Linked DNA regions of Homo sapiens: regions 2, 3 and 4 are each linked to region 1. The links come from fine-mapping of genetic effects on gene expression. A gene starts in region 1. Each other region holds a variant in brackets. All regions are shown on one strand. Distances are between the middles of the regions. Region 1 holds the start of RALB (RAS like proto-oncogene B). Region 2 overlaps RALB (RAS like proto-oncogene B). Region 3 overlaps RALB (RAS like proto-oncogene B). Region 4 overlaps RALB (RAS like proto-oncogene B).

What was found. PIP is the estimated chance that this variant, and not a neighbour inherited with it, causes the effect. A credible set is the group of variants that fine-mapping cannot tell apart.
Region 2: its variant is the best candidate, but not a certain one, in a credible set for the expression of RALB in fibroblasts (GTEx, PIP 0.73).
Region 3: its variant is the best candidate, but not a certain one, in a credible set for the expression of RALB in whole blood (INTERVAL, PIP 0.68).
Region 4: its variant is the best candidate, but not a certain one, in a credible set for the expression of RALB in amygdala (GTEx, PIP 0.76).

The regions. Positions count from the first base shown.
Region 1 is chr2:120,251,605-120,254,287 of GRCh38, forward strand. It overlaps RALB (RAS like proto-oncogene B), which reads left to right and starts at 1,248. Exons shown (of 5, transcript NM_002881.3): 1 at 1,248-1,376. RefSeq lists a silencer at 941-1,530 and an enhancer at 2,031-2,300.
Region 2 is chr2:120,276,362-120,279,044 of GRCh38, forward strand. RALB (RAS like proto-oncogene B) reads left to right here. Exons shown (of 5, transcript NM_002881.3): 2 at 2,257-2,417. The coding sequence starts at 2,304. Among named protein-coding and RNA genes, the nearest start is that of RALB, 25 kb to the left of the region's middle. The variant CAT/C (reference allele first, on the strand shown) is at 1,057.
Region 3 is chr2:120,290,023-120,292,705 of GRCh38, forward strand. All of the region lies in intron 4 of RALB (RAS like proto-oncogene B), which reads left to right. Among named protein-coding and RNA genes, the nearest start is that of RALB, 39 kb to the left of the region's middle. RefSeq lists an enhancer at 489-1,184. The variant C/T (reference allele first, on the strand shown) is at 1,280.
Region 4 is chr2:120,283,695-120,286,377 of GRCh38, forward strand. It overlaps RALB (RAS like proto-oncogene B), which reads left to right. Exons shown (of 5, transcript NM_002881.3): 3 at 2,180-2,388. Among named protein-coding and RNA genes, the nearest start is that of RALB, 32 kb to the left of the region's middle. RefSeq lists an enhancer at 1-452. The variant AC/A (reference allele first, on the strand shown) is at 1,064.

The DNA.
Region 1 (2,683 bases):
GAAAAGGTTTGGGTCTGATTCCTCTTCTAGGTTATAAATACTAGGGAGCTTCCTCTTTGAGAAGCCTCCTACCCCATCTCCTTACTGTACCTAGCAAAGTGTCTGTCATACGATTAGCACTCAATAAAAGTTTTAAATGTGAATGAGAATGGTAAAAACAGAATACTTAGTAGGCTAACACTAGGATATTCTTCTGATTGCACTTTTTTGTTAAGTTGGTCACTTAAGACTAAGGTAAAGCTTCTGTGCTTTTTGATATAGATGCTGATGGAGGGACTGGATCTGGTAGATACATAGCAATCTAATCATGGCCCAAAGCCTCCAATATAGTATACACATGCATCCTAACTTACAATGATCAACAATGAAAGAATTAATTACACTGTGCTAGCAGCCATGGATATCACATTGCATAAGAGATAGTTCCCTCCCTTAGAGATAAGAGGCAGACGTTTAAACTGTCAGTTGCGATGGCTTGTGACTCTCATGAGGTCTGCGTAGGGGTCAGCACGGTCACAAAACCTGTGGAGGAGGAGGTGGTTAGGAAGGAAAATCCACCGAGATGAAGCTGTACTGGATACAAAATCACACGTTCCTGGGCTTTGGCAGGGAGCTTGCCCACTGCACTTCCTGCCTCGAGGCTATGGCTGGGGTGGGATTCTGGCCCTTGTAGGCGGCCTGGGTCCAGTCTCCGCCATGCACTCACTAACTCCATTACTGCTAATGGGATGTCATCAGCGAAGCGAGTGGTGGCGGCAGGTGGAGTCCCGCCCCAAGACCCCCGGGCGGCATCCCCATCGCCGCGCTCCAGCACTCTTCGCCACCTCGTAATTTTCTTCTGTTTCTGTATGATCAGGTCTGTCCTTCGCTTTTGCTTTCCATTACTTCGTCCTAGCCCTGGCCTGAATCCCACAACTGGCGCCCCACCTTGTGCACCCGCACCCGCCCTCAATACCGGCGGGCAGCTCCTCCACTGCCGCAGGGTTACCAGCTGCGTGTCCGAGGGGCAGAGAGAGAAACAGAGGGGGACGGGGCAGGCGCGCTGGGCCCGCCCCCCCGTGCCTGGGGCAGCTTCTCATTGGTGAAACCTCCTCCCCGGCCGCCCGCTGCTTGGAAAATCAGCCTCGGATTGGCTGACAGCCCCCCGACGGGCGTGGCTTCCGAGGAGAGGGCAAGAACGGAAGCGAGGGCGCGCTCTCGAGAGGAGGGGTTGCCTAGGCGACGCCGGAGGCGCGCTCGGGGGGTGGGAAAGCGAGCCCGGCAGCTCAATGACAAATCGGTGGAGGACGGCTGGGGTCCGGCCCCGGGAGGGGGCGGGGCGCGTTTAAGAGCTGCGGGCCGGGTGCGGACGGCGGAGGCGGCGGGACTGGTCCCTGGTAAGGGCGCGGCGCCCGCGGGCCCCGGGCGGGGTGGGGCGCGGGCTGGGGAGTGGGGTACGCCGCACGCCCGCAGCCTCTTGCTCCCTCCGTGCCGGGCTGTGGCCGGGCGGCGGCAGGACATGTCGCGCCCCGAGGCCGGCGGAGGGCGACGCCCCGGCAGCGGCCCCGCTCCGCTCCGGGAGGACTCCCTGGGGGAGTCTCGGCTTCCTGGGCTGCCTGGGGCTGAGGAAGTGGGGGCGGCCTCCGCCTCTCCCTTGTAGCCGCGGTTCCTTCCCTATCCCGCAGATGGCTCTGCTTCCACTTCCTGCCGCGGGCCTCCCGCTCGGGACCGTCCACTTCCTCAGTCCTCCGGCCGCGGCTTGGGCAGGGTCAGGGCTGGGAAGTGTTGCAAAAACTTAACTGCCCTCGGAACTTGCACGCGCCGTGAACTGGGCGGTGTTCCTAAAGGGCTTCGGTTTGCTGGTTTTGTTTTGGTCCTGTCTTGCAAATGAGCATAAAGTTGTTTCTCCCCCAGCCTCCTCCCCTTTCCTTTCTGATAGGGGCCAGCGGCGAAGGGGCTTCTAAGGGGAAGCGCCTGGACTGGGCATCGCCGTCCCGGTTCTTGCCGCCTGTGGGAGTGTGAGGTTAACCGTGCTCGGTGCAGGGTTGCGGGGCGCGGAGCTTGCTGCGTCCACACTGCTTGTGTGAGCAGTGTCCTCTCTGTGCTCATTTCCAACGAGAAACGTTGGAACTTTGGTGTTCTTATCAGGTGAGTCTTCGGGAGAGAAGTGCTTGTGCCTGGCGGACTGAATGAATTGGCCGTGGAAGAGACTTGGCTGATTGCTCATCTGGGTTACCTGTGACTCATCTTCAGCCCTTGTAGAACAGTGCACTTTCTGCTCTGTCCTGGTTTCCTAACCTCATTTCTTCTGAAGTTTTGGGGATGGATGGTGGGCATGGAGTATCAGAGGGGATAGTGAATCTTTTAGAGGTGTCAATGACTGATGTTCCAAGCAGAGCCATAAGATTGTTGGATGTCAAAGCTCAGAACCGGTCAAGGCTCAGAATGCTCCTTAAACCTGGAGCAATAGAAGCACAGTATCGAAGTTCCCAGAAATGGGCCGACCATGAAAGGTAGCACTGCATATTGGGAAAAACAGGAGGGGTGAGTTTGAAGACCTGGGTTTGATGCAGGTTCTGAGAGTTTACCGGTGTTGTGATGTGGAGCACGATCTTTCCCCCTCTGAGCTCCAGAGTCAGCAACTGTAGAAGGGTGATGATAGTTATCCTAATTGTTAGGATTAAACGAAATAGGAGCGGGGGAG
Region 2 (2,683 bases), 25 kb after region 1:
AGGCTGAGCAGGGGGTGGATCACTTGAGATCAGGAGTTTGAGACCAGCCTGGCCAACATGGTGAAACCCCATCTCTACTAAAAATACAAAAATTAACTAGGCAGGGTGGTGCGTGCCTGTATTCCCAGCTACTCAGGAGGCTGAGGCAGGAGAATCACTTGAATCCAGGAGGCAGAGGTTGCAGTGAGCCGAGATCGTTCCATTGCACTCCAGCCTGGGTGACACAGTGAGACTCTGTCTCAAAAAAAAGAAAAAAAAAAAAGGAGGAAGTTCTGCCGAGGACTCTTTGCCCTCACTATCTGCCTAAATGGTCTCTTTCTACCTCCTGTATCACTCTTACAATTAGATGGGATGGAAAACAACATTGGTTCATTCCTACTGGGTGCTGGGTCTGTGCCTTGGTGTTTTCCATGTATATCCTATTTAGTCCTCAGAACATTCCTGCAAGGTAGGTGGTGGTTGGTTTTATGCACATAAGAAAACTGGCTTGGAGACATTGAACTAGTTCTAGGGTCACGCAGCTCACAAATGGCAGAACCACACTCATGCCTGCCAGATGCCCAAGCCCTGCCCTTTATTCTTGTGTTTTGGTATATGTGAAATAGATTTTTCCATACAAATTGGTTAAAATAAAGATTGGCACTTGGGTTACGGTAGATTCCAGGTCCCTGTTAAATATACTTACTTGGGATGCTTTGTTGTCCCATAATACTGGAGTTGCTCTACTCATTTTATCTTCCTTCTGATTAGGGCAAATTGATTTTGAGATTTCTCCTTTTAACTCTCATGTCATGAAGGGGTATTTGTTCTTGAACTCACTTCTTTAATCAACCAGAGGGATGTGTGGGGCTGTGTAAGAGTGTGAGAGCATATGTGTGTGTGAGAAAGTGTATGAGAGCATAAGAGTGCATGGGAGCATGTGCGAGAGCGTGTGTGTTCTGTGAACGTGTTACAGCATGTGAGATTGTGTGTGGTGTGAGCATGTGAACATGTGTGTGAGAGCATGTGTGTGGTGGCGTGAACATGTATGTGTGAGAGCATGTGAACACGCATGTG[CAT/C]GTTAGAGCCTCTGAGCCTGTGATATGAGCATGTGTTAGAGCATGTATGTGGTGTGAGCATGAACATGTATGTGTGGTATGAGCATGTGAACGTTAGAGCGTATGTGAGTGTGTAGTTGTGTGTGTGTGTGAAAGCGTGAGTGCACCTATGAGAGGACAAGTGTGTGATAGTGTATGGAGTGTGTGTTGTGAGAGCATGTGAGCTTGTGAGTGTACATGAGCACAAATTTGAAAGTGTTGTGAGAGCGTTGTGAACGTGTTATGAGTGAAAGTGTGTATGTGGGTGTGTGTGATAGTGCGTGTGTGATAGTGTGTGAGCTTGTGTGTGAATGTGAGCATGTATGACAGCGTGTGCTAGCATGTGTGAGCCTGTGATAGTGTGTGAGAGCGTGTGAGAGCAAGTGTGTGAATATGTGTGTTTGAATGTGAGAACATGAGCATGTGTGAATGTGAGAACATGAGTGTGAAAATGAGTGTGAGCGTGTGTGTGAATGTGAGTTAATGTGAGCGTGTGTGAGCGAGTGTGAATGTGTGAATGTGAGTGAATGTGTGTGAATAAGAGCATGTGTGAATGTGTGTGCGAGTGTGTGAGCATGTGTGAATGTGAATGTGAGAGCGTGAGTGTGTGTGAATGTGAGCGTGTGTGAGTGTGAGCATGTGTGTGAATGTGGGCATGTGTGAGTGTGTTAGTGACCGTTTGTGAGTGTGAATGTGAGAGCGTGTGTGAGCGTGTTGTGAGTGTGTGCGTGTTGTGGGGTAGAGGGTAAGAGGGCAAAGCGAGGAGTAAAGCTAAAGAGCTGGGGATTGAGGTCCCAAGCTGTTCTCCGCGGCAGCCGAGAACCGAGCAGAGAGGTAGGAAACTGGAGCTACGAGCGGTTTGGTCTCTGCCTCAGTGAGGCCCTGCTGAGGGTCTGATGATTTTTGGTGACTGGGTGTCCTCTCCACCCTGCCCAGTGAGGCGGGCGTGGGGTGTGCGCTCCTGTTTCTCCCCTCTAGCCTTGGCTTCGCCCCAGCTGTGCTGGGGTAAGTGACTTCCAGAGTTGTTGGAGGGCTCGCATGTCTGCCCTGAGCCTGAAAGGATTACTTTCCTGTTGGAATGTCTGGGTTAGTTAGGCTTTAATGGAGGATGTGAATGACATTTGGTTTTAGCTAGGTTGAAAGCAAATCGCCTCTAAGTCTTTGTCTTTGTCATCAGCAGCTCTTCAGTGGGTCATCTGTGTGTCACAGCCTCAGAAGACCAGCGAGATGGCTGCCAACAAGAGTAAGGGCCAGAGCTCCTTGGCCCTCCACAAGGTGATCATGGTTGGCAGCGGAGGCGTTGGCAAGTCAGCCCTGACGCTTCAGTTCATGTATGACGAGGTAAGCCCTGCTAGGCACAGACCACCTTCCTTTGGCATTGGCCGTAGCAGTGTCCCTGCTCCCGCTGTTTCTGTGCCGGTCCTCCCGTACACAGGGGTTCACGGAGCAAGTCTGTGTTGAGGTGGCTTCTGAATAGCTTCCTAGGAAGGTCTAATCAGCATAAGATCTGGATTGCTGATTCTAGGTAAATAATTTCAACTCCGGCGGGGATGTGAGAGATCTCTGCTTGCATCGTTTCCATTGTTATACTTCGAGCTTTCTTTCTG
Region 3 (2,683 bases), 38 kb after region 1:
GAGACAAAGTCTCACTGTGACACCAGGCTGGAGTGGTGTGATCTCAGTTCACTGCAACCTCTGCCTCCTGGGCTCAAGCAATCCTCCTACCTCAGCCTCCCAAGTAGCTGGGACTACAGGTGTGCACCACCACACTGGCTGTTTTTTGTGGAGATGGGGTTTCACCATGTTGCCCAGGGTGGTCTCAAATTCCTGGGCTCAAGTGATCTGCCTGCCTCAGCCTCCCAAAGTGCTGGGATTACAGGTGTGAGCCACCACACCCGGCGGACTATGCTTACTGTTGGTGTGGTCCTGGGAAGGATGGTGGGACGAGGCCATTGGTTTGTGAAGGCTGGGCTGGAGGGATGGACGTCATTAGCTTCTGTGTGTGCTCTCACCTTCCACAGCCTTGCTCTTCAGGAGCAGGGTGGGCGGGCCTGGCTGCTTCTAGGAGGTTCCCCTGGAGGTGCCCTTGAAAGATACGTGGAGCTTCTTGATTTTGCTCTCATTGAGTTATTGGTCAGATTTGTTCTTTTCACCTTACTGTTCACTGACAGAGCCACAGTGTTCCATCTTTGTAGTGTAGTCTCTAAATAGTATTTGCTCTCAGAACTCAAATCTCTGGGATCTCTTTTTTTTTTTTATCTCTTATCCCATCCCAGCATACTTTCTCATTCAAATCTCTGAAGCTAATAAAAGGGTGACCTTGAGTGACAATGATGAATGCTGACAATTTGAAAATCCACCTATCAGGGATTGCTATTGTTAGGCCTTTTTTCTTTTTAAAATTAAAGTTCAAGGTGGTTGCCACACAGCTAAAATTTTAACGCTGTGCCTTAAAGATGAGGCTTTCTGCCTTGACCTCATTCACTAGCTCTCACTGCATATCCATGTGCTTGTAGAATCTAAGCACATAGCACTTTGGCAGCCACACAGTGGACACGTCTGCTTTTTGTTCTGCAGCATCAGCATCTGAATCCCCTATATCCTGTCTTCTGTTTCTCTTTCTTGTGCAGAAACATTCCCCTTTGCTTTCATTACCTGACAAGGGAGAGATTTTTATCCAAGCTTTATTTTCACTTGAAGTGATGCTAGAAGAACATTGGTATTTAGAATGTTGGTATTAGAAGGGGTTTGCTTTAGACGCACTTCGGCAAGATACATCTATTTGTATGTATCGTACATAAAAACATGTATCTTAGGAGACATATACATATAGGATAGATATACATATAGGATACATATATTGTACAACCTAAGTCCGTTTAGTTGTAATCTGCAATGGGAAGCGCGTGTTCCG[C/T]CGTCAGCTTTTCTTTATATTGTCATCTCTCAACTCTTACACTCTTATATTATTGTGCTACTTAAAATATTTTTATTAAATTATTTTCCAGCTGTGGAAACCACACAGGAAATCCAGAAATATGGCTCATTTTAAAAAAATCAGGGAGACTCTCTCAGCTTGGAACTGTGGATGTGTATTTCCTGGATGGGTTGTCGCGTGGGGGGTCTGTGTTGTCATCTCCCCTTGTCTGCTGGACCAGCTTGACCTGCCAAACAGGAACCAGCAGAGACTTATGACTGGCAGCATGGTATTCACTTGTAAAGAATTTCTATGAAAGGTGTGATAAGATCAGCCCATGAACAACTTTGTCATCATTTTAAGTTGGATGCACTCCATTCCCCTCCTCTTGTCTTTTGCTGTTAGGACAAAAAGACAAACCTGTAGCATTTGAAACTGTTCACTGTTGCTGTCTTGGGCAGTGCTTTCCTGAGAGGCTGGCAAGAAGGGATGTTTGGGTTGGCCTGATCTAGCTGGGGGCTGGGGTTGGGGGTGCTTTTCTGTGCCTGGAGCTAGTGGTAAATGCATGTGGAGCCCCACACTCCAGAGGCTTGATCTTGCTTTTCACCAAGAAGAAGGTGTGGCCATGAAGGAGCTTGTGGTTTTGTGTGAATGTCTGAAGATAAGGGCTGTGCTCAGTCCCACACTTGCAGTCTCTGTCATTCTCTATGAGAAATCTCAAATGTCTCTTCGTAGGATTCATATTTTGTCTGCTTGGGTATAATCAGTCCTCTGGCATGATGGCTGGTAGCAGAGGGCAAAACCCAAACTACTGTGACAAAAGGATAATCCATATCTAAGTAACACACTGACCTTCAAAGGACAAGTCTCATCAGTTCTTGATAAAGTTCCTCTCAGCTGACATCACAAGGGTCGGAGGAGTGGTTGTCCTGAGATTGAGGGTGGGGGAGTGTGTGTGGGGAGGGATAGGGTGGCCAGAAGGACATCTCTCATCCTCCATCTTCTCAGTCGCCTAGTGCAGGAGCTTTAGTTGTTGATGCTTTACGCCCTCCTTCTCCCATCCTACTGCCTCCCCAGGGTGGCTGTTGTGGAGTTAGCTGGGAAAGCTGTCATGCATAATGATGTTCCAACCTCCATGGGGTCCTTGTAAGGATTAAATCAGATGCAGGGGTGTCAAGAGCACCTGGGAGCAGGGACTCATTATGGCATTCTTCCCTTCCCTGGTGGTTGGAAATGCTAGAAAGTCTGCTTGCTGTTATTACTCTCAATATTTGTAAATTTTATAAATGTATAGATCTGTTATATGCAAAAATATGTCTTACCCTTCATCACACTTATTGTAAGATTTTATCATTTTGAAAGCAGCTGTTAGGCCGGGTGCAGTGGCTGACGCCTGTAATCCGA
Region 4 (2,683 bases), 32 kb after region 1:
CTCTGGCAGCTTAGAGGAAAGTCAGCTTAGAAAGAAAGGGTCCACGTGAAGTTTGTCTTAGACTCTTGGGCATCTGAAACTGAGCCATGCAGAGCTCTGCAAGGCCAGTAGGGGATACGTATGGTTCACGCTAATGGATACAAAGACTTTGTGATTTTCTGTTTCCAGCTGAGCAATGTAAATAAACATCAGGGTTGTAATGGAATGTTGGGGTAATCAGCATACTTTTCATTGAGTACAGAGGTATGTAGGTACAGCAGGACATTCTGACTTCTGTGTCAAAGGAGCCAGTGGAACTCTGGCTGGCTTTATCCTTGGAAGCTCAGAAATATACAGTTGAGATAATTTATGGTAGAATTCAGAGATTTTCAGGGGACAGTCGTGTGTTGGATTTTTTTGGCGTGTATTTTTCTTTTTGGAAAGGAGTTAAAAGAAGGACACTTGAAAGCACAGGCAAGTTTTCACATCTCTATTTGGAGATAATTTATTAGTACACGTTGAAGAGAACCTAATACTAAACATGTCTTAATATTTTTATTTTTGAGTAGCTGTTAACTGACAATACAAGGCTCTTTTTAACAGTCTTCCTCAAATAACCTTTAATTCACTTGGACATTTTCAATTCCATTTTTAAGTTAAAAAAATTTTAAATCACAGCCTTATTAAGATGTAATGCACATATGAAATTCGCTCTTTTTAAAGTGTACAATTTTTTTTTTTTGAGATGTAGTTTTTCTCTTGTTGCCTAGGCTGGAGTGCAATGGCACGATCTTGGTTCACTGCAAGCGCCACTTCCCAGGTTCAAGTGATTCTCCTGCCTCAGCCTCCTGAGTAGCTGGGATTACAGGTGTGCACCACCATACCTGGCTAATCTTTTGTATTTTTAGTAGAGATGGGTTTTCACCATGTTAGCCAGGCTGGTCTCGAACTCCTGACCTCAGGTGATCTGCCTGCCCCGGCCTAAAGTGTACAATTTAATAGGTTTTTTTTGTATATTCATACAGATGTGCAACCATCACCATTATCTAATTTTAGATCACTTTCATCACTCCAAAAAAAACCA[AC/A]CTACGTATTAGTAGTCATTCCCCGTTATTGCTTCCCCGTCCCACCCCTGGCCTCTGGCAACTGCTTTCTGCTTCTATGGATTTGCCTATTCTGGACATTTCATATAGATGGAATCATACAATATGTGGCCTTTATGTCTAACTTCTTTCACTCAGCATCATGTTTTGAAAGTTGTTCCATGTTGCAGCGTGCGTTGGTACTACTTCATTCCTTTCTCAAAAACCCACACCACTGAAAGCCTCTTGGTACACTGTGTTAGTTCATTCTCTTGATGCTGTGAAGAAATACCCAAGACTGGGTAGTTTATAAAGAAAAGAGGTGTATAGCCTCTTTTCTTCCACAGGGCTGGGGAGGCCTCAGGAAACTTACAATCATGGCAGAAGGGGGAGCAAACATGTCCTTCACAAGGCGCCAGGAAGAAGTGCAGAGCGAAGTGGGGAAAAGCCCCTTATGAAACCATCAGGTCCTGTGAGAACGAACTCACTATCACAAGAACAGCATAGGGGTACCGCCCCCATGATCTCATTGTCTCCCATAAGGTCACTTCCCCAACACATTGGGATGATAATTCGGATTACAACCTAAATGATGAGATTTGGGTGGGGATGCAGAACCAGACCATATCATACATCTTGCCAAATTACTTTTCAGATGAATTTTATACTTCCGTTATGAATAAGAACTCCAGTTTTTTGATATACCTAATGTTAAATGACGAGTTAATGGGTGCAGCACACCAACATGACACGTGTATACATGTGTAACAAACCTGCACATTGTGCATATGTACCCTAAAACTTAAAGTATAATTAAAAAAGAATTCCAGTTTCTCACCCTTGCAGGTGTTTGCATTAAAATTTTATACTGACAATAATATTGCCAAGTGTTCTGCTCTGTGCCTGGTTTCCTCATCTGTAAATTGGGATATCTGCCTGTATTGTTTAAAAACAAAAAATGGCAAAACAGAGCTATAAAGAACAGAAGTGTTACGTAAAATGTTGCTTCTGTAGTGTCCTGTTCATAGTGTGAAGTGCCCATATGTGGAATTTTGTTTTTTGGCAGATTTTGTTCCCCTTAAGACTTTGTTAATTACCGATAATGTTTATTTCCTCAGTTTGTAGAAGACTATGAACCTACCAAAGCTGACAGTTATAGAAAGAAAGTGGTTCTTGATGGGGAAGAAGTTCAGATAGATATTCTGGACACCGCTGGGCAAGAGGACTACGCAGCCATTCGAGATAACTACTTTCGGAGTGGGGAAGGGTTTCTTCTTGTGTTCTCAATCACAGAACATGAATCCTTTACAGCAACTGCCGAATTCAGGTATGTCTGAAATGAAATAGCAGAAGCCCCCAGGAAGCTTTTTGCCTTTTCTCATATGTCTTAGGCCTATGAAGAATTTGGGGCTGAGCATACTAGGAGAGGGCTGAGCTTGTTCTCAGGAATAATTCTGTCTAAAGAATCTTCTGGGGCTTTCTGAATCTTGGCACATTATAGACTATGATGATTATAATCTCTTTGGGCTTTCCTGATCTGTGATTTCTGAATAAAATAATTTTAAGAGTCTTACTGTCCCCGAAAACAATGAAGCTATTCCATATAATCAAGAACATATAAT